Linked DNA regions of Homo sapiens: region 2 is linked to region 1. The links come from fine-mapping of genetic effects on gene expression. Tissue or cell type: gastroesophageal junction. Region 1 holds a variant in brackets; the other region holds the start of a gene. All regions are shown on one strand. Distances are from middle to middle. Region 1 holds the start of LOC107985891 (a long non-coding RNA gene). Region 2 holds the start of ETAA1 (ETAA1 activator of ATR kinase).

The links. PIP is the estimated chance that this variant, and not a neighbour inherited with it, causes the effect.
Region 2: it holds the start of ETAA1, and the variant in region 1 is fine-mapped to the expression of ETAA1 in gastroesophageal junction (GTEx, PIP above 0.99). The same link has a PIP of 0.9 or more in stomach.

Annotation. Positions count from the first base shown.
Region 1 is chr2:67,463,196-67,472,661 of GRCh38, reverse strand. LOC107985891 (a long non-coding RNA gene) reads left to right here and starts at 8,165. Exons shown (of 3, transcript XR_001739520.2): 1 at 8,165-8,638. RefSeq lists an enhancer at 8,291-8,871. The variant G/A (reference allele first, on the strand shown) is at 5,487.
Region 2 is chr2:67,393,684-67,403,149 of GRCh38, reverse strand. ETAA1 (ETAA1 activator of ATR kinase) reads right to left here and starts at 5,817. Exons shown (of 6, transcript NM_019002.4): 1 at 5,479-5,817; 2 at 3,853-3,981; 3 at 3,524-3,600; 4 at 176-288. The coding sequence starts at 5,701.

The DNA of each region.
Region 1 (9,466 bases):
TTACTGGCTTATGTATTGAGCAGTACATGGTTCCACTTTTATTAAAGAACATTAGGAAAAGGTAATTTATTTCATGGTTTAGTCCACAAATCTGATTTTGAGAGAATGGAATGAAGAGTGTGAGGGGTGATCAAGAAATTTTTAATCAGTTGAGTGGAACATAGGGATGACGTCTACGTCCCAACCACATCTCCCCTAGCATGGATTCAGTCACTTCTGCTAATCTCACTTTCAATTACAAGCACAGGTTTTAAAGCCAGTGAATACTATAAGGTGTGTTGTCAGCTTGTTGTTTTTCTTTAAGCTACTCTGTACGTTCTGAATAATTACTTTGAAATGATTATTTTGAAGTTATACATTGGCTTTTTTAACTGCCATTGTCCTTGCAATTACAAGAAACACAGAATTTTCCACTCCTTCAAGATTGTTAAAAATCCTTACAGAAGAAACAGTCACACTCTGTGTGCCAAAGGGCACAAAGAAAGATGCATCAACTTTTAAATATCTATATTGCTCACTTTATACTACCTACCTTTTTGTACCATGTATAAAAATGTGTAAAATAATACAAATTTAAAATACATATATGTCTAGGTTAAGGAAAAAGCATACTGCACAAAAATGTCTTTGTATAAGTTCTCCATAAGATAGGGTTAGGAGATATTTATAGTTTTGCCGATGACTTAATACTTACTGCCCTAGGAATTCATTCATCCTTCCAACTGCCTTGAGAGGCCTTTGAAACAATAAAGCATATTTGTGACCACACTGGGAGTGGAGTCCAGGCCCCACATAGCAGACCTGAGACGCCTTGGCCCAAGGAGCTTAACTGATGTCAAATGTAAACCACTTTTCAAAAGCGTGTTATCAGGTCCACACCAGACTATCCATTTTGATAATCTCATTCCATTTTTCATTTTATTGTTGAAAGAAGAAATAGATTAATGAGAGTCTAAATCCCCCCAGAAAGAAAATCTTCCTTATAAGGCATGCCCGAAGAGAGATTTGAGAAAATTACTTGCTCTGCCTTTGTTTTGCCAAGTAAGGTAACATTTAGATCATTTATATTTGAAAAATTCTTAAGCCAGGTCAGTGTAGTCTGCTAGATTAAATCTGGAGGGGGAAAAAAAAACAAGAAGAAGATCATGAGGATGAGGATGATGACTACGACAACGATGATGATGTAAACTATAAATCTCCCAGACCCTGGTTTGCTTGTGTGTTTGAAGACTAGGGGCAAACCCCTGTGATCCATCTCAGATCCAACAAGAAAAAAGCGGCCCCAAATTGCATTTGAAAATGGTGCACCACATGAAAGAAACATTTGTCTAAAGAGAATTTAAAATGATCAGCTTCTAACTATACGAGAAATATTCTTTCAAGTATCCCAGAACAATAAGAGAAAGTCTTACAGAGAATGGTAATCAGAATCATGGAGTGATCTGTGACAGAACAGAAGGAGCCTTAGATAGAAATCATCATGGTAACATCATTTTGGTAATACCACATTGCTAACATCATTTTACAAATGAAGAAGTTAGAATCTAAAAAGGTACCCTTCACAGTTTCAGAAAACCTGCCTTCATTAGTCCTGTAGTGCAGTGAAGCTGAAGATTCCACAGCAGCTTCAGAAGGAAATACCAAGGTTTGAAAACTTCAGTGGCCCAAAGTTGGAACAAGAGCCCTGCCTTCCAGACCTCGAGACCAGAAGACTGGATTTGAAGCTCTATGAAAAATTTCATTTTTCAACCAATCGGAGGACAATTGGATGCTCAGTGCAGGTATAGTAAAGTGTTGTTTCTGACCAAATATTCCCACCCTCAATGAAGTTATAGAAAACCATATTCCTGCCCTAAACAAGTTTAGTATCCAAGGGTCATTTTTCAACTTTACTTCCTCCAAAATCCCAAGGTGATTCTCAGAGGTTATCACTGCTGTTAAAAATCCAAGGTTTCAGCAAAAGAAGCTCCATTTGGCTGATAGCAGAATTGCAATACTGGATTCTTTTTGTCACCCTTCTCCCCAGGGCATCACAGTGCCAGGCTCCTGTCAGTTTAATTGGGAACCACTGATATAGACAAATCATCAATGACACAGGAGTTCATAATAAATTGACTGTATTGGCCAGGCGCAGTGGCTCATGCCTGTAATCCCAGCACTTAAGGAGGTTGAAGTGGGCAGATCATCTGAGGTCAGGAGTTCAAGATCAGTCTGGCCAACGTGGTAAAACCCTGTCTACTAAAAAAAATTAAATAATTAGCTGGACATGTTGGCATGTGCCTGTAATCCAAGCTATTTGGGAGGCTGAGGTAGGAGAATTGCTTGAACCTGGGAGGCGGAGGTTGCAGTGAGCTGAGATCAAGATCGTATCATCGCACTCTAGCCTGGGGAACAGAGCAAGATTCCATCTCCAAAAAAAGAAAAGAAATGGACTGCATTGCCTCTGGAGGAGGGGCTGGATCAGATCTAGCTCATTATTTGCCATCAATAATTGGGGCACAGGCTATATGGTTGAAGCACTGCATCTCACTTGGATTATGTTCTATGCATCTTATTGTAGACATTCTGATATCTGTATTTAGAACCATCCAATATCTGTCACCACCATTCCCACAGAACACTGGGAGGAGAGCTGAATCTGTATTCACCTAGCACACACCACAAGAAGCAGTCTTGGCCACGCACAGCACATCATGCAAGTCGGTGAAGCCCCTTCTGGGACAGAAAGGGAGGTGCATAAAGCTGGATTCTGGCACAAAGTCTCAGCCAGGAAGGAACCACATGCGTTCTCTATCGGGTGAGCACTTTGCCTTGAGGTTTGGTGAGTTGCAGTGTTGTGCACCTAAGGCTGTCCCCATTAAGCTGCCTCCTAGCAAATTTAAAACCACTATGACACAGACACCTGTGCAAAAGGAAATTAACTAAGACCCTGCACTGATGTTCCCTTCGGAGCTCTTACCACCCTCTAAGAAGGGCTACATATCACCCTGTGAGAGGGCAGACATGGCTGTGGGAGCTGTCTAGACCTGCTGTGGTGAAGAAGGACTCTACTGTCTTAACATCGACTGTATTTCTTATGTCAGTATTGTCTCCCAATTTTAACATGACTGAATTGTTAAAGGATTTTTTTTTTTTTTTTTTTGCCTTGCCTACAAAATGACACAAGTCCTCTCCTTTTCTGGTTTCCATTATATTCCATTGTGTGGTCCTGCACAGAGTCAACTTTCATTCCAAGATTTTGCATTTCTATGTAATACTACTCAATAGCTATAGTGCATAAACATATGTTTAGGCACTTTGAGAAACATTTTTAAATTAAAATGCCTTATGTCAATCAGAGGCAGGCAGTATCCAGGATGTGCATGAAGCTGAGCGTGTGGATTATGTATTCCAGGGAAAACATCCTTGTAGTCATTGTGCATGCTCCATGGCCGCTTTTCAAGGTGAAATGTCTCTGCCACTAAAATAACATTTTTATTTAGTCAAGACACTAAAAGCAGTTAGAGGCCAGTATTGATTGATCACTTGCCAATGTTCAATTTTTAAATCAAAGTTATTTTGGACTTACTATTGTATGAGCTCCCCAAACATCCATAGTCACTTTATTTGCATTTTACATGTATTCAAAATAACTACTTACTTTCTCCCTTTAAAAAAATTGATTGAAGAAACATTTGCTCTCAAGATGAAAAACATTACACTGCAAAGCAATCTGTCATAGCTGAATGATGATTCCCTTGATATAATGGTTCTTAATGAAAATTGTGAGGAATTTTCTACTCTATAAGCTTCAAGAGGCTTGGGTATGGAGGACATGGGTCCCCCACCGCAGCAATAAGAATAACATAGGCCTTCCAGATATGCCCATCTTGAGAGGTGATGACATGTGCTTGTTTTTGAGTCCTCAAAGTTTGTTCCCTAATTATTTCAGATATTCTCTCCTTAGTAATTATTTTGGATGTTCTCCTCCCTCTGAAATAAGAGGAAAAGTCACTTTCATACAAAATACACAGTGTTGCAAAAGGATAGGACTGTAGCAATCTGCCAACAATTAGAGACGGAACCACGTAAACCAAAAAGCTCAAAGCTTATTAGTCATTATTGACATTATTTTTAAAGTTTTCAAGTGCAAGCACTAATTAAAAGGATAAGATTCTAACCGTTTAATTAAGTTTGATGAGTTATAGAATTTTTGAGGATGGTAAGCAAGTATTTGCCTGGGTTGCATCATCAAAGGCATCAGATGAAGAATTGTTTCAATCTAAGGCATGTTTCTCAATAAATGCTTCATTTACACAAGCTAGAATTTTCAATTCTTATCCAATGTTATATATAGTTGTCTAGATGAATCTTTGAATTACTGTGTAACTATTAATAACTGTTCACAATGCACATTGTATATCTACCTTGTACCTAAAGGCCATGATAATGATTATAGAAATAAAAATGAATGAAATGGTCCACATTCAAAGACATACTATCTAGTAAAGGAAACAGATGTAAAACAAACAAATACCATACAGTGTACCAATCTCATTTGTATCTGTACAAAGATAGCCCAGAGGAAGAAATGACAATTTTTTTTCTGTAGAAGTCAAGGAAAAGGTAAACCCAAGCAGAATCTTTATTTTATTTTATTTTATTTTATTTTATTTGAGATGGAGTCTTGCTCTGTCACCAGGCTGGAGTGCAGTGGCGTGATCTCGGCTCATTGCAACCTCCACCTCCCGGGTGCAAGCAATTCTCCTGCCTCAGCCTCCCGAGTAGCTGGGATTACAGGCACCCGCCACCACACCCAGCTAATTTTTGTATTTTTAATAGAGACGGGGTTTCACCATGTTGGCCAGGAGGGTCTTGATCTCCTGACCTCGTGATCTGCCCACCTTAGCCTCCCAAAGTGCTGGGATTACAGGCATGAGCAAATCTTAAAATATTAATAGAAGCATGCTACAGTCACAAAAGGAAGATGATTTGTACACAGGAAATAATGTTTAGGAGAGCATTAAAGAATGAAACACCAGAGAGAGAAAAAGGGAAGAGAGAGATACAAAACTTCAAACAGCTTTGTGTAGTTAGAACGCAGGCAGCAAGAGGAGGGAGATGAGGCTGGCCATGCTGTCAGGAACTAAATCATGCAAAGCCTTTTGTGCAATACAAAGAAACTTGGCTTTGATTCTGTGGACAATGGTGAACCATGAAAAAGTTTGTGATTTAAAAAATATTACTCTAGAGGCACTTTGGAGGCTGGATTAGGGATTTCAAGGGAGACAGATTAGAATCAGGAAGGCTCTATGGGTGGTCATTATATAGTCCAAATGAAAGATAAAGTGGATCTTAAATAGAGTGAATAAAATAAATATGAGAACTACTAGAAAGGAAGACTTGATTGATTGAATTTGGAGTCAGAGAGAGGAATGGAAGACTTTGAGCCTTAGCAAAGAACCTCGGTATAGCATTTAAGAAAGGGTGGCATTCACAAATGCAGA[G/A]GTTAGAGGTAGTCTTGAAATTGTTTTTAATTACTCATTAGCAGAAATGATCATTATTCTCAACTCATACTCAGGTTCCAGAGATAGGGAAGTGGCATGTTCCATCATACACCACCGCACTTGGCAGATTCCTGGGAAAACAATCAGTAACTCCCCTGTAGGCCCTGTGAGAACAGCTCAGAAGCTACAGTCAACAGAGTTGGGCCAGAGCTGTCCCTACTTAAAACAACCAGTAGGGATGAAAAAAATTCAGTAAGTCGTTTGGTTGTTTGGTCTACATGACACTGCCCCCTACTATCTCTGAACCTGGAAGAAAGTCCTACATACACACAAGCACACACAGAGACACACACAAACACATCAGAACAATTGGAGGAGTATTCTCACGGATATAATTGGATATTTTGACTGTAAATGCCATGTCCATGGAAACGAAGATGATCTCAGTACTGGGGAACCTACTCATCTCAAGAGCAAACATTTGTTTCAGATATGTTCTGAAATGCCAATATTTGTTAGAGGAGAATTTGCTTCTGGATATTTCTCTAATTTCTGCCTTTGCTGCTGTTGCTGTTCCAAAAATCTTAGGCTTTTCCAATACAATTATTCCCTGAATATAAAAATATAGATACCTAGCTATGACCCAGGTATTGTGATGAGTTTTACATAACTTACCTCATTTAATCCCCACAACGACCTACAGATATATACTGACACTATCCTAATTTTTTTTTTCTTGAGATGGAGTCTTTCTCTGTCCCCCAGGCTGGAGTGCAGTGGCACAATCTCAGCTCATTGCAAGCTCTGCCTCCTGGGTTGATGCCGTTCTCCTGCCTCAGCCTCCCAAGTAGCTGGGACTACAGGTGCCTGCCACCACACCTGGCTAATTTTTTATATTTTTAGTAGAGATGGGGTTTCACCATGTTATCCAGGATGGTCTCGATCTCCTGACCTCGTGATCTGCCCGCCTCAGCCTCCCAAAGTGCTGGGATTACAGGCGTGAGCCACCACGCCCAGGCCTATCTTAAATTTTTAGATAAAGAAACAGAAGCACAGAGAGGTTAAATGACTTGCGCAAGGTCACACAGCTAGGAAATGTACAGACAGGGTTCAACCCCAAGAAGCCTGGCTGCTTATCCAAATGATCTTATCCAAATGCACTTCCCATGTTCAGTTTATTTGGATTTACCATTGGACCATATTTCCTTGGACACAAGATTACAACACAACCATTTCAATTATTGCCAACCCTTTGTCATTTACAAGCTCAAAGTGCAAATCTGTAGTCACATGATCCCATGCAAATTTCAGAAAGCCTAAAATGATGAGCTCACACACCCAGTCTGGTGACTTTACATTGAGATCCAGCTAAACTGCATGAATTATCAAGGCTAAAATTAGGACTCTTACATCTTAGCTAACACCTGCCTCTCTCTGTGCTAAAATATAATTAGCTGCTTTTCCTGGGGGAAATTGTAAAACTGAATGCAATTAAACAAAAGGAGAGACAGCAGATTGTACAGCAAAACAAAACAAAACAAAAAGTACTTAAAAAGCCAAGATAGATACATATTCAAAGGTAGCAATTTCAGAGGCAAGGCAGACCTTTCTTATTTTGCAGTAATGTTCTGAATGGCAAAGAGCATGGCCTTTGGCACATGCTTGGTCCTCCATGTTTGTTCACTGCTATGCACACTGTTTGGGGTTGAATTAGGACTTTGGCAGGGCAGCCATTCTCTAGCTATGGTTGTATATTCATTGATGACCCCAAAAAGCAGGTGATCTGTGCCATCCAGTCCACATGCCTCACACCCAAATAGCCCAGTGGAAAGATCCCTCAAGTGCCACATGTGAGTCCTGGATGCTCGTAGAGGCTCTTGTGCTAGCTAAAGTTGTGGGATGTGGTTCCAGTTGCTTGACTTCTCTTGGTCTAGCTTTTCTTGCACTGAAATGACAAGAAAATGATCCCTGCCCTATTTTCCTCAGGAGAATACAGTGAGACTCAGAAAGGGCTAAAAACAAATAGGCCACTTTACTCAAGTTTTGCCAATGAAATGCCTAGAATACAACCATTTGTAGAAATAAGTTCACAAGTGGTTGAAAAGGCAATGAGCAAAATTCTAGGGGAAGACTCCATTACTTAAGACAAAGACATCACCTTTCCCAAACAGGATGTAGAAACTGCCACTGTCCAAAAGGTAGGCCAAAAAATAAAACCCACCAACAAGCAAACAAACCAACCCATGGTCCAGTCACTAACCATGAAAAGGTTTGTAAGTGCATCAGAGGAGATTAATCCTTAACTGGAGAGAAATAATAATCAAGGTATATGTGTACCACAAAACATTGTAGCTGGGAAAAAGAGACTTTAGGGAGGAGAAACAGGAAGAAGAAAACTAAAGCTTAGTGTTAGTCTCATACTACAACATGTCAGCCCAAGATACTATGGGCTGTTTTACTGAACAGGGCAAAGCTGCTTTAATTTAGCGGTGTTTATTTGGAAAGGTTTGCTATCCCAGTGCTCTTTGCAGTACACCACATATGCTGGTGTGTTTTTTGGCTGTACCTGGAGGCGTGCTGTGGGCTGACGAATGTCCAGGTGTGAAAATTCACGTTAGCCATGTATATGCACTGTGGATTTATTTCTTTGCACTTTTTTTGCCCTCCTAATTGAAATAGTAAAATTGACTATACTCAAAGCTTGAATAGTCCCCCAGACATTAGTGTTATAAATTAATGATTAGAAATATAATTCCTTGTATACGTCTTTCTGCCATCGCATCTTTCAAATGCAAAGTCAGTATGGAATAAGAATCAGAGAAATGTAACCTGACATTGAACTTGAAACCAAACACATTGACAAAACAAAAGAACACAAGCAGAAAAAAAGAAAAGGGAACTTTGAAAATCATCTTCATAAGGCATTCTGAATCTGCAACAATCTATTTTTCCAGATTAACAAATCTTGGTCTCTTCTAGGTGTTTTGAACTAGATTACTGACTGGCCATCTGTGGCAGGCCCACTCCTGGATGTCATGCCCCTGTTAATGAAATCTGGGCGTGCGCTCGTAAACAGACCTGGTGAATGGTAGACGTCAGCCATTGCGTGATGGACAATCATCAATCATCCATTGTCAGTTATTTCTGTCCCAGTGAGTAAGCCTTTATTTAAAGCATTAAGTAAGAATGTTGCCAGACCACAGGAACAAGCCCTGAGCTGTTTGCAGGTGCTGCTATTCACAGCTGCCAATTAAACCCCTGACATTTCCATATTGGCCATGAGGCACAGCATATGCTTTTGACATACCAATTCTTTAAAAAAAAAAAAATCACCAATCTCAGATTATCAATACATGCCTTTTTCTTTTTCCATGGTTACTACATGAAGCTTTTTAAAATTGTTTATTTTACAAATAGAGGAAGGAGAATCAGAAAAAGTTCTAGTGAACTGAATTATTAAGATGTGCACATAATATTCTTTCTTGTGGGAAAGTGGCTGGCATTTCTGATGTGAAAAGTCTTCCCTGATGCCTAAATCTACATAGCAAAGTCTCCTATCAGGACTTCAACATTAAAAAATATTTTTCTTGCCTTTTTACTTATATTTTTTTCTTTTTGATTCTCAAATAGTAATACTATTTTAATGTAATCCAGTACATTAAAACTAGATATTGCAATTTTGATTATGATTCTGTGTCTTTCATTGAGATGCAAAATGATTATAGTTTGCAAGTGTGCCTTGTATTTAAATAATTTCATGAAATTTGCAGAGACTTTTTATTTAGTCTCAAATGTAAGTACATGAAAGGGTGTGTTCCTAGGCAAAGGGTGTGTTCCTAGGCAAAGGGTGTGTTCCTAGGTAAAGGGTGTGTTCCTGTGTGTTACATCATGGCTTTACATTCACATATTTCCAGGTTGGAAGATAAAAGCATCCAACCACTCTCAGAGGATCATAGGCGTAGTGGATGTATTCACCTATA
Region 2 (9,466 bases), 70 kb after region 1:
GTTAAAGCTCTAAGATTTTAACAGTTATAATTATTTTAACTCCAAAATTTGATAGATCAAAACTGTGGAAATTTTATTAACAAAAATTTTGATATATTCACAAAACCAAAATGGAGTATTATCAAAAAATATTTGCTTCACTGAATTTCAGAAAAGCTGAAAAGTCTTAACTTACTTTGTGCAGCTGATTTTTGCTCTTGATTTTCCTTTTGCTACACTGGGAGTACAAGGAATAGCAGTTTCACCAATCCACATGTCCAGCATAGAATTTGTTGTTGGTTTTTCATCCTTTGGCAGATAGGGAAAAAAAGAGGTATAAAGTACCAGTGTAGCATCCCCCGTCTTCCAAAAAAACAAAAGAAAGAAAAAAGACAATAAAAACTAATGATTTTGAATTAATTTCCTAAATTCTGGTGAGGTAACACTTACCAAACTCAAAAACAATAGGAAGTTGGGAGATAGCAATAATAAGCTACAATAATTGATCCACTTATGTTTCAGAGAATGAAAACATTCAGAATTACAAATTGCTTATTTTAAAAAAATATTGTTTTAAGAATTAAATTTATCAAATGTACATTTAATAACAGAAGCATGTTTTTATCAAAAGAAAATTGACATTTTAATTGTCCTAAGATACTTATAAAAACATTAGTGTCAGAAACTGTGTGGCAGAAATCATCAGAATTGAGAGGAGATACATATGGAATTCTTTCTGTATCATCTGTTTCTCCAAATTTTCTTTATCCTTATTATAATCTTTATCTAAAGTTGGACAATCCATGTTGACCTAAATTAAGAACACTCAGAATTAAGATCAGGAATGAATTAAGAGATAAGAGCAAGGTTAGAACTGATGCTAAGAATGAGACAGGAATAAGAATAAAAAAATAGAGAAAACAGAAAAGTTTAGCCCAGATAATATACAGAAAAAAGGCATTTTAGACCTGGATACTTTTGCTGTACCTTTCAGTCACTTGATCACACAAAAAAATTACAGAATGAGCTTTAGGCATTAATTGCAAACCAAACCAACAAATCAAATCAAGTAACCATTTTCACTCTATTTTATAGTACCTAGAATGAACATAAATATCACACAATTTAAAAAATAATTTTACTACTAGATTATAGGCTACTCAAAGGCAAGGACTCTTCTTAGAATAACTCAGCATCCAGCACAATATTGGGCATACCAGTGTCAGTATACATTTATTTACTAGAAGATTTAGGTGAAAAGATCCCTACAGTTTGGTACTTCAAATCCTCAATGAATCAAAAAAGTTTTCTTAATGTCAACTTGAACCTAGTTGCCTTTAGCTTTGCAAATACTCAAGAAAATCAGTAATTTCACTTTCAGACTCAATATATTTTCCCTTTTATTTCAACAATCTTGAATTTAAAGACAATCATAGTCTTAATTATGAACTCTGCCATTTACAAAAGTAATTTTAAATTCATTCAATTTTCAGAGAACTAAATTATGACTTTATGTACCCAACTTTACATATACATGGGTCCTATGTATGTTTGTATACTATTTATACATGTTATTACATATTTCTTCATGAATAATTACATAATTTATTGATTTTCAACCATAATCCAGGTGCTGTATAAGGTATCTAAATGCATTACTTCATTTCATTATAAAAAGTATACTGTGCAAAGCTGTATAAATGAAGATACATACCATCTTCAAATAAACAACATTGTATAAAAGTATCCCTGCAAAAAGTGAACTGACTGTCCAACCAAAATAAAAGCGCATATTTAAAAAAATGCTATCTCTGAAAATGTTAAAACTAAATGATTTGAGAATGACTCACCTAAAAATAAACAATATAAGTATTTGTCATTCTGAGAACATGACAAGCTTTCAAACAGACCTTGAAACTGCTAAAGATTTATATGCTTTAAAAGTACTCAGTTTAAGAGGGTAACATTTTAAAGCTACTAATTTCACTATATTTTTTTCTTTTATACAAGTTACCACTTGCGTACTGTTGTCATTTCTTTATATGAGCTATTATTTCTAGCCCACTTAGGTAAAGAGTCCAATAATTTATTCACAACTATCTTTTTATCACTATTTAGACTGGCCCACCCAAACACATTTTATTATGCTTCTTTCATGTGAAACCCACAATTAATGAAGATCTATTGTTAACTTATAGAGTAAGTACTATTATGGCATAAATGCTATTTAACTAATTAACTGTAAGTAAAATGAATTTCTATGACATGCTAAAAATGGAATGTAGAGCTAGTAGCAACAGAGTTGTTTTGACTGTGCTAGGTGTAATTTTGGATATTTTATAGCTGCTAAGAAAAACTTCATTTTCTGTCTCTTCCACCTGGGTGACAGTAATTCTTCAAACCATGTTTTGGGCCAGTGCCATCTATTGTTTATGGTCAACATATAGTAACTATTCAAGCGCAGGTTAAGGAAAAATGGCATACTTCCTTCAGAGAAGACACTAAGCAAAAATGTTCTCTGGATTTAAATGTTAAATAAGAAAAAGAGAACAAAAAGTAAAGAAGTTCAGAACAGTTTCACGTATTGAGCCTTTGCTTCTTAGTAATTATAATATTAGAGTTACTGGATTGCTTTGTGTCAAATGATTGACTTGAACATATTTCTATTTCACTCAAACAATAAAAGAACAGAAATGAAAAAAAGAAACGAAACACTCAAAAAAAAATTTTTTTTAAGAGACAGGGTCTTAAACTCCTGGCCTCAAGCAATCTTCCTGCCTCAGCCTTCCTCCCAAAATGCTGAGATTACAGGAATGAGTCACCATGCCTGTCCAAGAAAAGAAAAAAAAGCTTTGGAGATGGTTCTATTACAGTAACAACCTTAACGTAACCTTACAATTATAGCACTCTATAGTTTACAAAGAATTTTTATCTAGTTTAATTCTCATAATGATCCAATGAAGACAGCAAGAGCAACACAATAATTCTAGTTCATGGCTGAATGAACTGAAGTGGTGGGAGTTTAAATAACTTGCACTGGGTCACACAGCATAGGAGGTTGAATGAGGACTAAATTTGAATTCAGTGCTCTCCACTTTTGTAAGTGTTTCTTGATAATCTTATAAGGAAATGAGTATTAATAGTTTCAATGGGGAAATGTTACAGACAGGAAGTACCAATCACAAAACAATCATAGAAGTATAAACTTTTTTCACTGCCTTATTCTATTATTTTAGCAACTTGAAAAATGATGTCGTATGTTGTTAAGCACAACATTACAGATAAACACAATGCCCTAGTCAAAAATTACTCTAAAAAATTAAAACAAGATATATACTTAAGAAAATATCTTGTATTTTATATTATATTCCTTTTTTCAAAATATGTATTTCAAAAGTAGAAAAGGCAAAACAGTAATCTTTGCTGCCTTATTTTTGGAAAAAAGAATTATAATAGACAATACTTTTCATTTAAAGAAACTACAAAAACTTAGTGGCACATTCTTCACTGTTTTAAAACAAACTGTAAAACTAGTGATATTTACCTGAGGAGCAATACGATTAACAATATGTGAAATCTCATCACTATCTGTGGTGTAAATCTGTTTTTTTCTTCCTTTACCTAAAGAAACAAAGACATTTCTATAAATTTTAAACAAAAAACCCTCCATTTTAAAAAACAGCTGTCACTTCTTAGAAAGTAATTTTATTTAGTGCAGCTTAGAGGATTATGTGTTTACATCACATACTTATACAGATAAAATCATATAACATTCTCAGAGGTTCCCGATGCTATTATCTGACTAGAATTCTAGTTAAATCTGAATCATTTATCAAATATTTACTCACATAAAAAATGTTAATAATTAATTACCTAACTGCTTTGTCAATGGAGAATTCTGATCCCAAAAGATATCATTCTGTCCATCTGGATCATTAGGAGAACTGAAGGAAGATGACAGTGAGTCCATTTTCAGCGCTCTCTTTGGTGTTTCATACCTTTCTATATAAAATATGAGTAAAATAACAATTGTTGCATTTTAAAGCATTACCTTACTTCGTAAGACCCCAAGGTCAAATAGCTGAGACTAACTTTTATAGTCCAAGATAATTTTTTTTCCCAGAGATAATTACCTGAACCGTAACAGAAATGCTTGTTTCACATAAAAATCCACGCGGCACTTCGCAAACTTCACATTGTAAATAGCAAACACTTCTAGATAATCCAGAAGCTTTATGAATGCATAATACAATACTGTATAACCTAAGTCATTCTATTTATTACCATTGAGTCTTGGAGGCTTTGGGGAACCATCTGTAATTTATAGGTACATTCAAAAATCCAAAGTAACCCAACAGAAACCTAAATATGTTTAGCCCCCTTTCACCAACTCTATCTAATCTACATTAATTGCCATTCTTCAAAAACCATTAGTGATCCAATGCTTGGGAATTTTTGTCTAGAATCACTTTCAAATTTTTATAAAGATTTTTGTTCATTCCCAAATTGCTTTATAGGAGTATTATTAAAGACATGTAAGGTGGCCGGGCGCGGTGGCTGTAATCCCAGCACTTTGGGAGGCCGAGGCGGGTGGATCACGAGGTCAGGAAATCGAGACCATCCTGGCTAACACGGTGAAACCCCTGTCTCTACCAAAAATACAAAAAATTAGCCGGGCGAGGTGGCACACGCCTGTAGTCCCAGCTACTTGGGAGGCTGAGGCAGGAGAATCGCTTGAACCCGGGAGGCGGAGGTTGCAGTGAGCCGAGATTGTGCTACTGCACTGCAGCCTGGGCGACAGGGCGAGATTCTTTCCCAAAAGAAAAAAGACACGTAAGGTATAAAAAAAAAAAAAAAAAAAAAAGCACTATTTCAAGAACATGCTCCAGAATAAAGGCTTTTGTATGAGTTTCAGTTCCAACTAAGATTTACTAGAAGTCTTTTAAAAAGTAACACCTAAAACTAATCGAGACGAAAGAGATCCTTAGTATCTTATTTGGAGGGATGTTACACACAGGAACTTCCGGTTTATTCACAATGAGGTGAGACATCTACCAGGCTTTGAGACAAACTTTAACTTTTCCTATGAACTCTTCTCTAAAGCAGGTCACAGGGAAAAAAAGGGTTTAAAGAGAAATAACTTCTCCGGGCAAAAACTGAGGTTAGCGGGCCTATCAGCTGTTTCTTCTCACTCCACCACTGCTGCTGACTGGAGGAGCAGCCTGGAAAGCAGCCGCCCTCCCGCAAACAGGTAAACCACATTACCTATTCCTGTGGCGGAGGCAAATGGATGGTCAAACCTAACGGGGTAGTGCTGAAGTTCGGGGACAAAAGCCCATCGGGGAGTGGTATAGGATTATTTTTGGACTCTCGAGGGGTGAATCCCAGAGACAGAATACACGCTCCAGACTCCACCCCCACCCCAGATTTCCCTGTTGCAAGCTGGGATGTGGGGATGCGGCGCCGAAGCCAAGGCAGGCCGCGCTGCCGACGTCTCACCCTCGGGGTTACTTTTACTGCACAGGGCGGCGGTCGGAGGCTGCTCTCGCTGCCGCACTGGCCCGGGAGGCCCCTCTCTAGCCCCGCAGGGCCACGAACCGCGGGCCGATCTCAGCCGCCTCCTCCCTGGCTCGACCACCGAGCCGCATTCCTCCGCCGCCACTGTTTTGTGCGGCGTTTTCTTCGGGCTAGGGCTGTCATCATGTTTCCTTCGCCGACTCATTGCCTATGGCCCGCCTCCACCAGCCGCTTCTTCTTTCACATTTTGCAAAGGGATGAGTAGGGCAACAGCACTACAAACCGCACCCCGCACCAACGGCAGCCGCCATTTTGGTCGGTGGGGCGCGCGCAAGAGGCGGCCGCTGATTGGCTGGGTCCGGGAGAGGGGCGGAACTGTTAAGGTGCCGAGGGCGCGCGCACTTCCGCAGCCGGGACAGGAGCCTGCTCTGGAGGAGTGTCTAGGCTCAAAATCCTCCAGACTGGTGGGGGTTGTTCGGGTAGTAGTCAGGTCCGCGTAAACTGAGAGTGGGAGCTTGTGAGTTGGAAAGATTGAATACACTAGCAACTTTTTATTGAATTTACAACGAAAATTGCACGTTAGTCAAATTCAGATTATTGAGAGTCTTCGAATTTCTCAAGAAGAGGAAATACAGTTAATTTTTCATAGATGCTATGTGCATAGAAAAATCCAAAAGAAAGTAGAAAAAATTACTAAATTAATTTAAGAGTTGCTGGATACAAAGTCAATATTCAAAGATCAATGTGTTTCAATAGATTAGCAACAGATATAAAATTGAAGTTTTAAAGAGATACTATTTATAATAGTGCATGAGATAGCAAGTAACTAGGAATAAGTTAAAGATTGTCCTTCCTACAAAGAGAACTATAAAACATTTTTGAGGCCGGGCGCCATGGCTCAAGCCTGTAATCTCAGCACTTTGGGAGGCCGAGGCAGGCGGATCACGAGGTCAGGAGTTCAAGACCAGCCTGACCAGCATGGTGAAACCCCGTCTCTACTAAAAATACAAAAAATTAGCCGGGCATGGTGGTGCGTGCCTGTAGTCCCGGCTACTGGGGAGGCCAAGGCAGGAGAATTGCTTGAACCTGGGAGGCGGAGGTTGCAATGAGCCGAGATTGCGCCACTGCACTTGCAGTGAGCAGAGATCGCGCATCTGCATTCCAGCCTGGGCGACAGAGGGGGACTTCGTGTAAAATAAGTAAATACATACATACATACATACATACAAAAATTAGCCAGGCGTGGTGGCGGGTGCCTGTAATCCCAGCTACTTGGGAGCTGAGGCAGAGAATTGCTTGAACCTGGGAGGTGGAGGTTGCAGTGAGCCGAGATTGCGCCACTGCACTCCAGCCTGGGCAACAGAGCAAGACTCCGTCTCAAAAAAAAAAAAAATTTTTTTTTTGAAAGAAAACGAAGACCTAAATAAATGGTTACACTATGTTCATGGGTTGTGAGACTCAATATTGTTACAATGTCAGCTATTTCCAAACTGACCTATAGATTCAACATAAATACATATGAAGGCCCAGTGTGTGACTGTGTGTGTGTAACATGGTAAGTTTTTTCTAAAATTTATATGAAAATGCAAGGGACCAAAAATATCAATAAACTCTTGAAGATCTCTCGAAGAATAATGAGGGTTGATATCTACCAGGTATCAAGACTTATATGGTAATTAAGACAGTGTTATGATGGTGTCAGGATAGACAAAGATGAAAGAAACAGGATAGCACAGAAACAGACTTCCATATAAATGAACACGATTTAAGACAAAGGTGACCCTTCTGAGCAATGGTAAAAGGACTTTTGAAATTAAATAGTGCTTGGTCTATTTGATGTTCATGTAGAAAAAGAAAGAAACATGACCTTTACCTCAAACTTTATCCCCAAATCAGGTGCATATATATTCATTATAAATTTAATTGTAGAAGATAAAATAACATTTTAGAAGGTATAAATTGTCTTCATGACAGAACGCATTTGAAATAAAACAAAGGTCACCAGGCATAATTATAAATGTGACTACACAAAATTGATAATTTGAGAACTTCTGTCCATTCAAAAACAACATTAAAGAGAAGGAAGGGCAAGGCACAAATTGGGAGAAAATATTTATAAGACATATTTAAGGGCCTATATATAGGTTATATGAAGAACTGATACAAATCACTAAGGAAATGATTGACTGTCAAAACCAAAAGTGGATGAGACCCTTGAGCAGGATCTTCACAAGAGAAAATATTATCAACAAACTTATGGAAAAATCAGATTCATTTTTAATCAGGAAAATGCAAATGAAAACCATATCAGAATGGCTAAAGTTAAAAAGACTGACAATATAGGTATTGAGGCAGTAAACCAATGGAAGCTGTCACGTACTGCTGGTGAGAGTATAATTTGGCACAACCACTTTGGAAACCAGTTTTTGATCTAGCAATCCCACTCTGAGGAATATTCTCTGTTTAAATGCATGGACTTGTTCATCAAGATACAGTTTATAAAAATGCTTTGGTGGGATGCAGTGGCTTATGCCTGTAATCCTAGCACTTTGAGAAGCCGAGGCAGGTGGACTGCTTGAGCCCAGGAGTTTGAGACCAGCCTGGGCAACATGGCGAAAACCCATCTCTACAAAAAATACAAAAAATTAGCTGGGCATTTTGGCGCATGGCTGTAGTCCCAGCTACTAGGAAGGAGAATCACTTGAGCCCAGAAGTTGACTTGCTGTGAGTCATGATTGTGCCACTGCATTCCAGCCTGGGCAACAGAAAAAAAAAAGAAAAAACAAAGAAGAAGAAAAATGCTTTTAGCAGTAAAATTCAATTCAAAATTACTTCATACTGTAAGTGGACCAAATGCTTTCCAACAGTAGAATGATAAATATATTGAACTATATTCACACAACAAAATAGCAATGAAAATGAAAACTACAACTCTGTGCGACAACATGGATAAATCTGACAAACATAAAGTTGAGCAAAAAAAAGCTAGACCTCCCAACCCTCCTCCATAATGTTAAATAAATCCCATATAAATTCCATCAGGCAAAGTTCTACTATATTGTATAGGGATGTAAGCTTTAGTGTTAAAATGATAAAGAAAAATCTAGGAATGATTACCATAAAGGTCAGGATAATAGTTACCTTCGGGAGGGGGAAGGGACAGTGATTAGAAGTGGACAGAGGGAGGAGAGAATTTCATGTATTTATTGGCTTTGTTTATTTTCATGTTCTAGTTGTTAATTACAAAAGTATTTGCTTTGTGGTAATCTACTGAGCTGTACATTTTGTTCATTTTCTACACACATGTTATATTTATCAATTAAAATGTTTAAAATGTTAATGTAAGGCAAAGATCTTAGTTCCTACTGAGGAGCTGATATATTTCTTCTATCTTGTAAACTATTCTGTTTTTACTCTTTAATTTTGCTGACAGAAATCCTAGAACTAAATTTGAGATTCAGGGCTAGCAGTTATATAAACCATATAAACCGTTGTGAATAGATAATTCCATTATTTTTCCTCAGTGTTTGACCTTCTACTAATACTTTTTCTTTCCATGATTGTTTTTTACCTACATGTATTTAAACCATTGTTTAGTTTTATTTATTTATAACCGGATAAGACTGGAATACAAGTGATATTACATCTTTTAAAATTCAAATTAATTACTTGAACCTTCACTTGTATAAATTAGCAGGAATATTACTATTTCTCTCAGAGATCTCTCCTACCTCTCAAATGACCAAAAATCCTAGAAGCATTAAAAAAAATGTAAAAAGAACTTAATTTACCAAATAAATATCCAACTCACATTTAGAAAGTAATTAAGGAAGTTTAAAGAATTTAGTGATGTTTATAAGAGAAATAACCATGTAGTAATCCTTTAAAGCATATTAATGCTGCAAATAAAATAACAGTGAATACTTTACCATAACTCCAAATTCTATAGTGCCCAAGTAACCATTGCTGA